Homo sapiens: one gene and its partners. The protein of the gene in region 1 purifies or fractionates together with the protein of each later gene. This does not show direct contact. Each region holds a gene or a part of one and is shown in the gene's direction. Other genes may lie near its edges.

Region 1 (3,754 bases):
ACTCATTCATACAGTTCTCTGCTAATTGATTCACTTGATCAGCCGTAGATATTCATGCAACTTTTCACATACAAGCACTCAGCCAGGCCCTGAGGATGCTCTGGTGGATAGAAATTACATGGTTCCCACCCCCAACAGAGTATAAGTTAGTGAGGTCCACAGATCATTACAGAGTAAAACAATCAATATGTAGTTCCATGTTTGGTGGATACTTTGAAGCAAACAAACAGGGTGCAGTGATAGAAAAGACAGAAGAAAGACCTGCGCAGGTAAGGTTAGGTGGTCACCGAAGCTTCTCTGAAAATGTGACATCTCTGAGGAAGGTGGAACATTAATCATCTCTAGCAGTGCATAGGCCCTCTCTATGGCATTGTCAACTAAGCACTAATAATAGTCAGGGGACAACATGCAGCGATAGCCAAGAGCATGGATCTTGGAGCCAAAGAGATCAGGTTTTAATCTCAGCTCTGCAGCGCTAGCCATGCGCTAGCTTCATGCAGGCTTCCTTCATTTTAATTCTCAGTGACCTCATCCAAACGTGAGGATTATCATAAAACCAACCTCATGAGGCTGGTGTGAGGATCAAGTGCTGCCACTTAGAGCAATGCCTGGCAGTCGTTTACTTAATAGGCATTTGTGTCTACAGAAGATATTTCGAAAGAGCTGTTATGAAAACAAGGCCACTTGTATCTGAAGTATAGAAAAACATTGAAAAATACTTGGGAACTGAGAAAAGCCTGTTTTAGGTTGAAAAATAGAAAAAAAGTCAAAAGAAAAATGCCACTATTACCACCAATAACACCAACAATAATACCATCACTACCACCAACAATAATGCCAGCAACAATACCACCACCATCATCACATCACCACCACAATCACCATCATCACCAACACCACCACCAGCACCACCACCATCACCATCATCACCATCACCACTACCACCACCACCATCACCATCACCACCACCACCATCACCATCACCACCATCACCACCACCACCACCACCACCACCACCAAATACCACCACCACCACCACCACCACCACTACCACCACCATCACCATCACCATCACCATCATCACCATCACCACTACCACCACCACCACCACCACCATCACCACCATCACCACCATCACCATCACCACCACCACCATCATCACCATCACCACCACCACCACCATCACCACCACCACCACCACCACCACCAAATACCACCACCACCATCACCACCAAATACCACCACCACCACCACCATGTCCACCACCACTACCACCACCATCACCATCACCATCACCACCACCACCACCATCACCATCACCATCATCACCATCACCTCCACCACCACCACCACTATCACCACCATCACCATCAACACCATCACCACCATCATCACCACCACCACCACCACCAACACCACCACCACCACTACCAAATAAAACTTTTCTGGTCTCTTGTATGGCAGGCACTGTGCCTTTTTTCCACATATATTACCTCATCAATGAATTTTCTCATCAGTCCCATGATATAGCTGGAATTAATACATTCATTTAACAGATCAGGAAGCAGTGGCGTTGAGAAAGAAAATAGGTTGCCCCAGGTCATACAAATAGTAACGAGCACAGCCAGAATTGACTCCCACTCTAAATGACTTTTAACCTTCTTCTTCCCACTGTGGCCAGTGGAGAGATGATTGCAGCTGTTTAAACACAGTACAAAATGGAAGTTTTGTGGCTAAAGATTAAGAGCAACCACTTGTGGACTATGGCGGTGTTTCCAAGTCAGTGTTCCCAGAAACATTTCACTGGAAGGTAGTAATGAGGGTGTACTAATTATATGTATGATTTCAAAAAACTTAAGGAAAATTAGATATTTAAGTGACATGAGGGTTCTTAGGTTATTATTTAATAGATGTAGTTTAGAGTCAAATTATGTCAATATTTTGGAAAAAAAGTGTTCAAAAATCTCTTGGGATTGACAAGATTCGGTGTCCTAGAGTAGTTCTGGCCAATTCTGCCTATTTTTTTGTTGGAATCTTTGTAGAGGTTGAATGATAAAACATTTGCAGTAGGTCTTTAACGTCATCAATAGGTTCTTGGAAACTAAACAAAATGATGTACAGCATATCCTCATATAATACTGTTTTCTTCAACATTGTTTCATTATAAAATTGAGAGAAAAATTGTTTTTTTTTTTATATCATTTTACTTAAAGTCTCCATTCCCAAGAATGTATATAGCCGTGAAGCGAGGAGTTACTGTAACTGATTGTGGAGTGGGGTTGGAAAGGATAAGAGTTTGCCAGAGGCTTCTGTCTCCTCTTAATTTCTAACATTCTCTGTGTTCTCATGTTCCCCTTTGCAGAGGTTGAACATGCTGTGTCTGAATTCATCAAATATGAGATCTCCTTCAATGTATATATGTTCCATGGTGGAACCAACTTTGGTTTCATGAACGGGGCCACATATTTCGGGAAGCACTCGGGCATTGTCACCAGCTATGGCAAGTGTCGCTGGTGTAGTAGCCTCTCCAGCATGGGCGGTGCTGGGGCTTTACAGAGGAGGCTCCGGAAGCCTGTTCTGGCACCACTGGGTTCTTGACCTATAATCTATGCTGAGTACTGAAGATTTTCCTATCTACTTTCCTTCCTTCTGTATGTTCATAATGCCCCAACAGGCTGTCATTGCAGTAGACAGGGCTTTCCGGGACTTAGAGCTCCGCTTCACACATCTGGTATACTGCCCTGTTGGCTTGAACCTCTGAAGAGAGGCAGGGTAGGAACGGTGACTGCTGTAAAGGCACAGACCTGCACGGCCGGGCGATACAGACTGAGCAAAGAAAAGAGTACCCGTTGAAGGGGTGTCCACTCTTTTGGCTTCCCTGGGCCACACTGGAAGAAGAAGAATTGTCTTGGGCCACACATGAAATACACTAACACTAATGATAGCTGATGAGCTTAAAAAAAAAACACAAAATGTTTTAAGAAAGTTTATGAATTTGTGTTGGGCTGCATTCAAAGCCATCCTGGGCCGCCTGTAGCCCATGAGCTGTGGGTTGAACAAGTTTGCATTAGAAAGTGAAGAAGTGGGGGCAAGCCCAGTGTCATGGCTTGACACTGGAAGCCAGTGGAAGGTGCCCAGGAAGAGTTGTGGGGAATGTCCTTAGACTGGCATCACACACCCACGTGGGATGGAAGGTGTCTTCCTTTTGTCTCACTCACGGTGGCCCTGGCCATCTCCTGCCAGCGGTGCTGAAACAGGGCCTCCTGCAGAGACTGCATGGCTGGTGACTGGCCCTGGTGTCTTGCAGACTATGATGCAGTGCTCACGGAGGCTGGAGATTACACAGAAAAATATCTGAAGCTTCAAAAACTCTTTCAATCTGTCTCAGGTACTCAGCACCCATTTAACTTACGGGCCAGCCCTCCTCATGTGGAGTCTCTGTTCTGTGGAAAAGTGAGGAAGGCGTGGGTCTCCCTTGTGGGCAGCAGTTACACCAAGCTCCTGAGAACAAGGGCAACCTTAACTTCGAACCCTGGGGTTAAAATCTGTGTGATTTTTTAAAATCAGGGTTTCTAAGCATTTTATAAGCCTCAGTTTCTTCACTGAAGCATAAAGATAGTAACCTTGGTCTCCTGTGATGACTGCGAAGATTGAGTTACTCTTTGTAAAGCTCTTATACCATGGATGACATAGTAACCCCCAATATGAAAGGAAAAGCCATGCTGGATAGGCATGGGGGGCTTAGAGAAGGCAG
Region 2 (3,754 bases), on another chromosome or scaffold:
TCTGTTTCAACAAAACTGCTACTTTGTCTTTGGCTTACTCTTACCTTCATTGCAGTCTGTAAACTGCCCTCATTTGAATACTTTCTCTCAGGGAAATACTTTTCTTTCACCTTCCTGAATTGCCTGTTATCCAGGGCCTAAAAACAGTTATCTTAACCATTTACTATACATATTACATTAATTTTTATATTTTCTTTTTTTTTTCCAGAACAATATAGCTGAAGTACAAGAATTACATTCTGAATTAATGTGGAAAGATTTTATAGACCACATCAGTAGTCTCCTACACAGTGTGGAAGTGGAAGTCAGTTACTTTGCAGCTGGAATTATTGCCCATTTAATATCCAGAGGTGAACAAGCTTGGACATTGAGTCGTAGCCAGAGGAATTCTCTGCTGGATGATTTGGTAGGGTCATTCCATACCAACAAAAGACATTCATAGTGGTTAAACTATCAAAGCCTCATAATGTAGTAAATAATGCAGTGCTAAATAAATATTGTAATCCTTTCTTGTGTGTCTTTTGTCTTCCAGCATTCAGCTATTTTGAAATGGCCAACTCCAGAGTGTGAGATGGTAGCATACAGGTAATTAGTATCATAATTAACAGTAAACCAGCAACCTAGTCTAGAGATCATTCCTAAGAGTCATTCCTACTAGATGCATAATTTTTCCCTCAGGCACCTCAATATTGGTTATTTATTTATTTATTTTGAGACAGAGTTTCACTCCGTCGCCATGGCTGGAGTGCAGTGCATGATCTTGGCTCACTGCAACCTCCACCTCCCAGGTTGAAGCAATTCCCCTGCCTCAGCCTCCCGAGTAGCTGGGATTATAGGCGCCCACGACCACGCCCCGCTAATTTTTGTATTTTTAGTAGAGACGAGGTTTCACCATGTTGGCCAGGCTGGTCTTGAACTCCTGACCTCAGGTGATCTGCCTGCCTGGGCCCCCCTAAGTGCTGGGATTACAGGCGTGAGCCACCACACCCAGCCAAAAGTATTGGCTTTAAAAGAAGCAAAGTATTTTGACTTTTTTCTACCACCTATCACTCTTCATGTTTCCTTCATTTCACATTTGTTGAAGACAAGTGCTAGGAATTTGTTCTATGCTCTTGAAATACAAAAATGAACAAAGACATGGTGTCTGCACACAAGAATTTTATATCCTTGTGAGGGAGAGTGAATGTGGATCAGATAAAATACCGTTATGCCAAATGTCCATAGAATGTTATGAAATTAAAGGTGAAGCCCAGTGGGGTAGCACATACCTGTAGTCCTGGGAGGATCACTTGAGCCCAGGAGTTTGAGGCTGCAGTGAGTTATGATTGCATCACTGCATTCCAGCCTGAGTGACAGAGCAAGACTCCAAATGTAAATACACACACACACACACACACACACACACCTTTCAGAGGAAGTGAGTTGTGACCTGAGTGTTGAAAGATAAGGAGAGGCAGGAGATTTTTAGGAAGAAAAAGCATCGTATTAATGTAGGAAGGTCTAAAATAAAATGACACATTGAAGGAATTAGAAGTAGCACCAGATTTGGGCCAGGCATTGTGGCTCATGCCTATAATCCCAGCACTTTGGGAGGCTGAGGTGGGTGGATCACTTCAATCCAGGAGTTCGAGACCAGCTTGGCCAACATGTTGAAACCCCTGTCTCTACTGAAAGAACAAAGTTAGTGGGGCATGGTGGTGCACACCTGTAATTCCAGCTACTTGGGAGGCTGAGGCATGAGAATCGCTTGAACTTGGGAGGTGGAGGTTGCAGTGAGCTGAGATGGCGCCACTGCACTGCAGCCTGGGTGACAGAATGAGACTCTCAAAAAAGGAATAACACTAGATTTGGTTGGGGAAACAGTTTGTAATAATTTATTAAAGGGCATACTGGGCCTGGCATGGTGGCTCACACCTATAATCCCAACACTTTGAGAGACTGAGGTGGTAGTATCACTTGAGTTCAGGAGTTGCAGACTAGCCTAGGCATCATAGTGAGACCTCATCTCTACTAAAAAATAAAAAAACCTGGGCATGATGGCATACACCTGTAGTCCCACCACTTCGGAAGGCCAAGGCAGGTAGATCACTTGAGCTCAGCCTGAGCAACATAGTGAGACCCCGTCTCTACAAAAAATAAAAAATTAGCCAGTTGTGGTGGCACATCCCTGTAGTCCAAGCTGCTTGGGAGGCTAAGGTGGGAGAATCGCTTGAGCCTGGAAGGTTGAGGCTGCAATGAGTTGAGATCGCCTTACTGCACTCCAGCCTGAGCAACAGAGTGAGACCCTGTCTCAAATAAATAAATAAATGTAAAAATAAATAAATAGGCCGGGCATGGTGGCTCATGCCTGTAATCCCAGCACTTTGGGAGGCCGAGGCGGGCAGATCACGAGGTCAGGAGATCGAGACTATCCTGGCTAACGTGGTGAAACCCCGTCTCTACTAAAAATACAAAAAAATTAGCCGGGCGTGGTGGCAGGCGCCTGTAGTCCCAGCTACTTGGGAGGCTGAGGCAGGAGAATGCCGTGAACCCAGGAGGCGGAGGTTGCAGTGAGCTGAGATCGCGCCACTGCACTCCAGCCTGGGCGACAGAGCGAGACTCCGTATCAAAATAAATAAATAAATAAATAACAAAAATTAAGAAGTGCATACTGGATGCCTAACTCTGTTTGTAATTAGATAACTTGATAATTAAATTACTAATTACCTGAAGTATTTAATTTTTATTCAACTTATTTTTTTTGTTTGGTTCATAAATGCTGATGTTGCCAACATTTTTTTTATTTCTCCAACTTATGTTCCACCTATTTTTATTCAGACCAGTAGAAAATAGAAGGGATAATTATACATCTTTTTCATAGTGTTCTACTAGTTAGTTATCACCTAATTTCTCTATTTCTTAGTTTCCAAACCAAGATCTACTTATCTTCAAATGTGTATCTTTAAGACTAAAAAGTGCTTTTGGAAAAATTTTTTCTCTTTCACTACCATGTTCTAATCACCTTCCATCTTCTGTACTGAGTCATGTCTGAATGCAGTCTTCTCTGAAATGGTTAAGACAAAGAAATGATATTCTATAGCTCATTTATATTAGTCTAAATATAATAGGATAAAATTTTGAAAATGAAAAGTTTAGGAATCACTGCTTTAGGAAATTACGCTAAATATGGGATGTAACTTTGATTCTTTTCTTTTGAACCTTTAGGTCCTTTAATCCATTTTTCCCATTACTTGGCTGTTTCACAACACCAGGAGTTCAGCTATGGGCAGTTTGGGCCATGCAACATGTCTGCAGCAAGAATCGTATGTACCAAAAAAAAAGAACTGTGTTTTTTTTCTTTAAGTGAAATTCTCATTTCCCAGGAAAGATATTTCTAAATTGTGTATTAAAGTGATTTTTAAGAACACTGACTTAAAATGTAAGGCCATCTTAGGTTATAAACTTAAGGTATTCTTTTTTTTTTTTTTTTTTTTTTTTTGAGACGAAGTCTCGCTCTTGTTCCCCAGGCTGGAGTACAGTGGCGCGATCTCGGCTCACTGGAACCTCCGCCTCCTGGGTTCAAGCGATTCTCCTGCCTCAGCCTCCCGAGTAGCTGAGATATCAGGCACCTGCCACCATGCCCGGCTAATTTTTGTATTATTATTATTTTTTTTTAGTAGAGACGGGGTTTCACCATGTTGGCCAGGCTGGTCTCAAACTCCTGACCTCAGGTGATCCGCCCGCCTAAGCCTCCCAAAGTGCTGGGATTACAGGC
Region 3 (3,754 bases), on another chromosome or scaffold:
CACATACCTGAGCTGGTTAGATCCGTCCCAAGGAGAAAGGCCCCGCTTTGAGCGCTGGCAGCTGTGTTCAGCTGGACTCTTCTCTTGGCCCAAGCATTCATTTATTCATGCTATTATAAGATTTGAGCTTATTCTATTTTTAAGGCTCTTACTCTTGTAGCACTTTATTAACATCTTTTTTATAACTCGTGCCAGTCTTATTATAATTTATATGTTCATTCTCTAATTTATCACTCATGAAATATTTGTTGAATATTTATTATCTGTACTTATGGTACTAGGCAGTGACATAAGCTAGAATTATTCTTAGGCCCAGTTCTTCTCACTGGTCTCCTGGGTGTTCCAGGGGAAAAGTGAGCTGTTCTCTTTCCAAATCAGGCCCTAGGTGTTTTATCTAGACCTTTCTCATAAACTGGCACTATTCACTGAACTACTGCCCAGGGGCTTGTTCTCCCTTCCCATACTAGTAACCAAGGTTTGCTCAGTGGCTATGAAGTCAGTTTCCCATCTGCTTGAAGTAAACATAATCAAGAAGGTAAATTGTCTGCTAGAAGCTCATAGAGTACATGGAAAAGGGAAGGGAAGTCCAGAAATAGGTTGTTTGCTATTGGGAAATACTTGCCATTTGGGGAGGTAACTGTCTGGATTACTGTTTTCTCCACTCATGAATGACCAGGAATCACTATGTGGGGGATCTGAGGGCAGGAGGGGGCAGTCATTTTTATTCATCAGGTTAAGCATGTCTAGGCAAGGGGAAGGTCTAAAAGTGGAATAGTGGAAAGAGAACAGGACATTGGAGACACTTAAATCTAGCTTTAACTCCCAGTTCTACCACTTCCTGACTGTATGACTTTGTATAACTCCTTTAGCCTCTTTGAGCGTCAGCTTCTCCATTTATAAAAAGGGGATGACCATTCTGCTCAGAGGACGTTATAAGTAAATAAAATATATATGCAGCACCTGGTACAGAAAGCATGATATTCACTGGTACAGCAGAATTACAACTGCGTTGACACCAGCCTGGGCAACATAGCGAGACCCTGTCTGTAAAAAAAAAAAAAAAAAAAAAATTAGCCTGGCAACGGTGGCACGCGCCTGTGGTCCCAGCTACTGGATGGAGGCTGAGGGGGAGGATCCCTTGAGCCTGGGAGGTCAAGGCTGTGATAAGCCAAGATCCTGCCACTGCACTCCAGCCTGGGGGACACAGATTCTGTCTTAAAAAAAAATCAGAATCGCAAGTGACCTTTATTTTATTTTATTAGATTTTGAGACAGAGTTTCACTCTGTCACCCAGGCTGGAGTGTAGTGGCACGATTTTAGCTCACTGCAACCTCTGCCTGGTGGGTTCAAGCGATTCTCCTGCCTCAGCCTCCCAAGTAGCTGGGATTACAGGCGCTCGCCACCACGCCTGGCTAATTTTTGTATATTTAGTAGAGACGGGGGTTTCACCATGTTGGTCAGGCTGGTCTTGAACTCCTGGCCTCAAGTGATCTGCCTGCCTGGGCCTCCCAAAGTGCTGGGATTACAGGTGTGAGCCACCGCGCCCGGCCACCTGATGCTATTTTTAAAATAACTGGTCCTTGTAAAAAATCTACACAAGTATATAAAGTGAGTGGCTTAAAGGTGTCCTATTTTGCATGAATTTGCGAGAAATTTTATTGCTGGAGACTCTCGGCTTCTGTCCCAAACTGAGTCACAAGAACTTGATTTATTTTTACTCCGCACCCCTCTGATTGCTTTCTGAGGGTCCTTCCGCTAGAAAGAAATTACATTGTTGGAAAATCAGACAGGAAACTTCGCAGTTCCAGCCTGGAAGCAAAAGCAGGCGTGAAGCTATCTCTTCAGCCCTCCCTCCCCCCAAGGGGAGGGGCACGGGGGCAGCTCGTGCAAGAGTCTGCAGAGGGCGGGGCTAGGGGCGGGGCTCCCACCTCGGTGCGGGGCGGGGGGCGCCGCGCGCTGGTCTGGCGGCCCGCGATTGGGCGAGGCCGCGAGCGGCGTGACAGCTGCCAGCTCACCGGCTCAGACGGTCGCCGCCGCGTTTGCGCAGGGGGAGCTGGTCGCCGCCGCGGCCGCCTGGAATTGTGGGAGTTGTGTCTGCCACTCGGCTGCCGGAGGCCGAAGGTAGGGGCGGTGAGGGCCGCCCGGCCCTGGAGCTGGGCGGGGGGCTCAGGGCGCTTCCTGGGCCTCCTCCTGCCGGCGGCCTCGGCGCCTTCCCAGCAGTGTTCTGGGGACCCACACATCCTCACTAGTGTCTCCAAAGCGGGACGTCCAAGTGGGCCCGGGGCTCCCTGCCGAAGGCCTACCTTTCTTATCTTTCCCACTCAGAATGTCTCCATTCACCTCTTTATTGGCAGGAGATGGGGCCGTGGAAATTTGAGATTGGCTTTGGCTCCGCACCTGTTTTTAGTGCCCTTGCCTGTTTCATTCTCCCAGCCTAAGTTTCCGTATCTGTCCGAAGAAGGGGTGGTTTGGTGTTGATCTCCGAGACCCGTGTGTCTCTTCCCATGTGGAATTATTGTCACTCTCTTATTGCTTGTTTTTCTTTGTCCTGGAAAATTTGCCTTTAGAGGTTACAGACTGGTTAGTGTTATCTCTCGGATCGTCTAGGGGCTTTGTGCATAAGCCTTGGGCTCCATTCCCTGGGATTTCCGATAAGATGGTGCGTGGGCAGCTGTACCCCAGGGGGTTCTCATTCAGGTGGTCCCGGAATCCTGGCTTTGAAAATCCCTGCTTCAGAAGTCAGGAGAGAATGACTTGACATATGAGCCCCTGGAATGGGGCTCTGAGTGGGAAAAGCCAGGAATCAGGAAATGCTAACACGTGTGAGGCTGGGGCTTTCTTTGCACCGGAGGAATTAGAATGCCATTTGATGTCTTTTAAAAATATTTGACTACCTATATATGTAAGATCAGTTTTCTAATATTCTTAAATGCCTGGCTTCGTTTAAAGTTCAGTTGGCTTTCCCACCTCAATAAACCTAAATAAAAACATGATCTGAGAGATGGGGCGGGGGTTAAGTTAACCCAAACTAAGTAGACAGGAGGAGAATGAAACTTACATATTTGCTAAGAGAAGAAAGTGATGTGTTTATAAACAGTTTTTTTTTTTTTTTTTTTTTTTTGAGGCGGAGTTTCGCTCTTGTTTCTCAGGCTGGAGTGCAATGGTGCCATCTCGACTCACAGCAACCTCCGCCTCCCAGGTTCAAGCGATTCTCCTGCCTCACCTTCCCGATTAGCAGGGATTACAGGCATGCGCCATCGTGCCCGGCTAATTTTCTATTTTTAATAGAGACAGGGTTTCTCCATGTTGATCAGGCTGGTCTCGAACTCCTGACCTCAGGTGATCTGTCTACCTCGGCCTCCCAAAGTGCTGGGATTACAGGCATGAGCCACCTCGCCTGGCATATAAACAGGTTTTTTTTTGACATTGTGAAAGATATTTTGTTGTGTGTGTGTGTCTTTTCTGCTCTCACCCCACCCAAGTTTTTTTCTTTTCTGATAAAAGTATAGCCAGATTTGGGGATTGGGTAGGATTTTGATGGGAGCCAGAGTGTAACGATATTGGGATTGATATTTGTATAACATGGGTCAGAACTTGGTCTGTGGTTTTGAGAACATGGCTCTCGGGTTTTTAAGATGGTGTTACCACACCACATTTATTTCCCCTTTCTTTCATTTGTTTAGTGAATTTAATCTGCTCATGAATACATGTGCTGTTTTAATGAAATTGGCAATAGAAGAGACGTTCTGCTCCC

The links.
Region 2: the proteins of GLB1L3 (region 1) and ZYG11B purify together in Homo sapiens (affinity purification with mass spectrometry; 3 studies listed by BioGRID and IntAct, with this or other methods). This does not show direct contact.
Region 3: the proteins of GLB1L3 (region 1) and SIL1 purify together in Homo sapiens (affinity purification with mass spectrometry; 3 studies listed by BioGRID and IntAct, with this or other methods). This does not show direct contact.

The regions. Positions count from the first base shown.
Region 1 is NC_000011.10:134,307,264-134,311,017, forward strand, and holds part of GLB1L3 (beta-galactosidase-1-like protein 3), read left to right. Parts: intron 1-2,362; coding exon 2,363-2,500; intron 2,501-3,307; coding exon 3,308-3,388; intron 3,389-3,754.
Region 2 is NC_000001.11:52,813,328-52,817,081, forward strand, and holds part of ZYG11B (protein zyg-11 homolog B), read left to right. Parts: intron 1-208; coding exon 209-406; intron 407-532; coding exon 533-585; intron 586-3,204; coding exon 3,205-3,302; intron 3,303-3,754. UniProt on the Homo sapiens protein: Serves as substrate adapter subunit in the E3 ubiquitin ligase complex ZYG11B-CUL2-Elongin BC. Acts to target substrates bearing N-terminal degrons for proteasomal degradation with the first four residues of substrates being the key recognition elements.
Region 3 is NC_000005.10:139,196,636-139,200,389, reverse strand, and holds the start of SIL1 (nucleotide exchange factor SIL1 precursor), read left to right. Parts: upstream 1-2,021; 5' UTR 2,022-2,121; intron 2,122-3,754.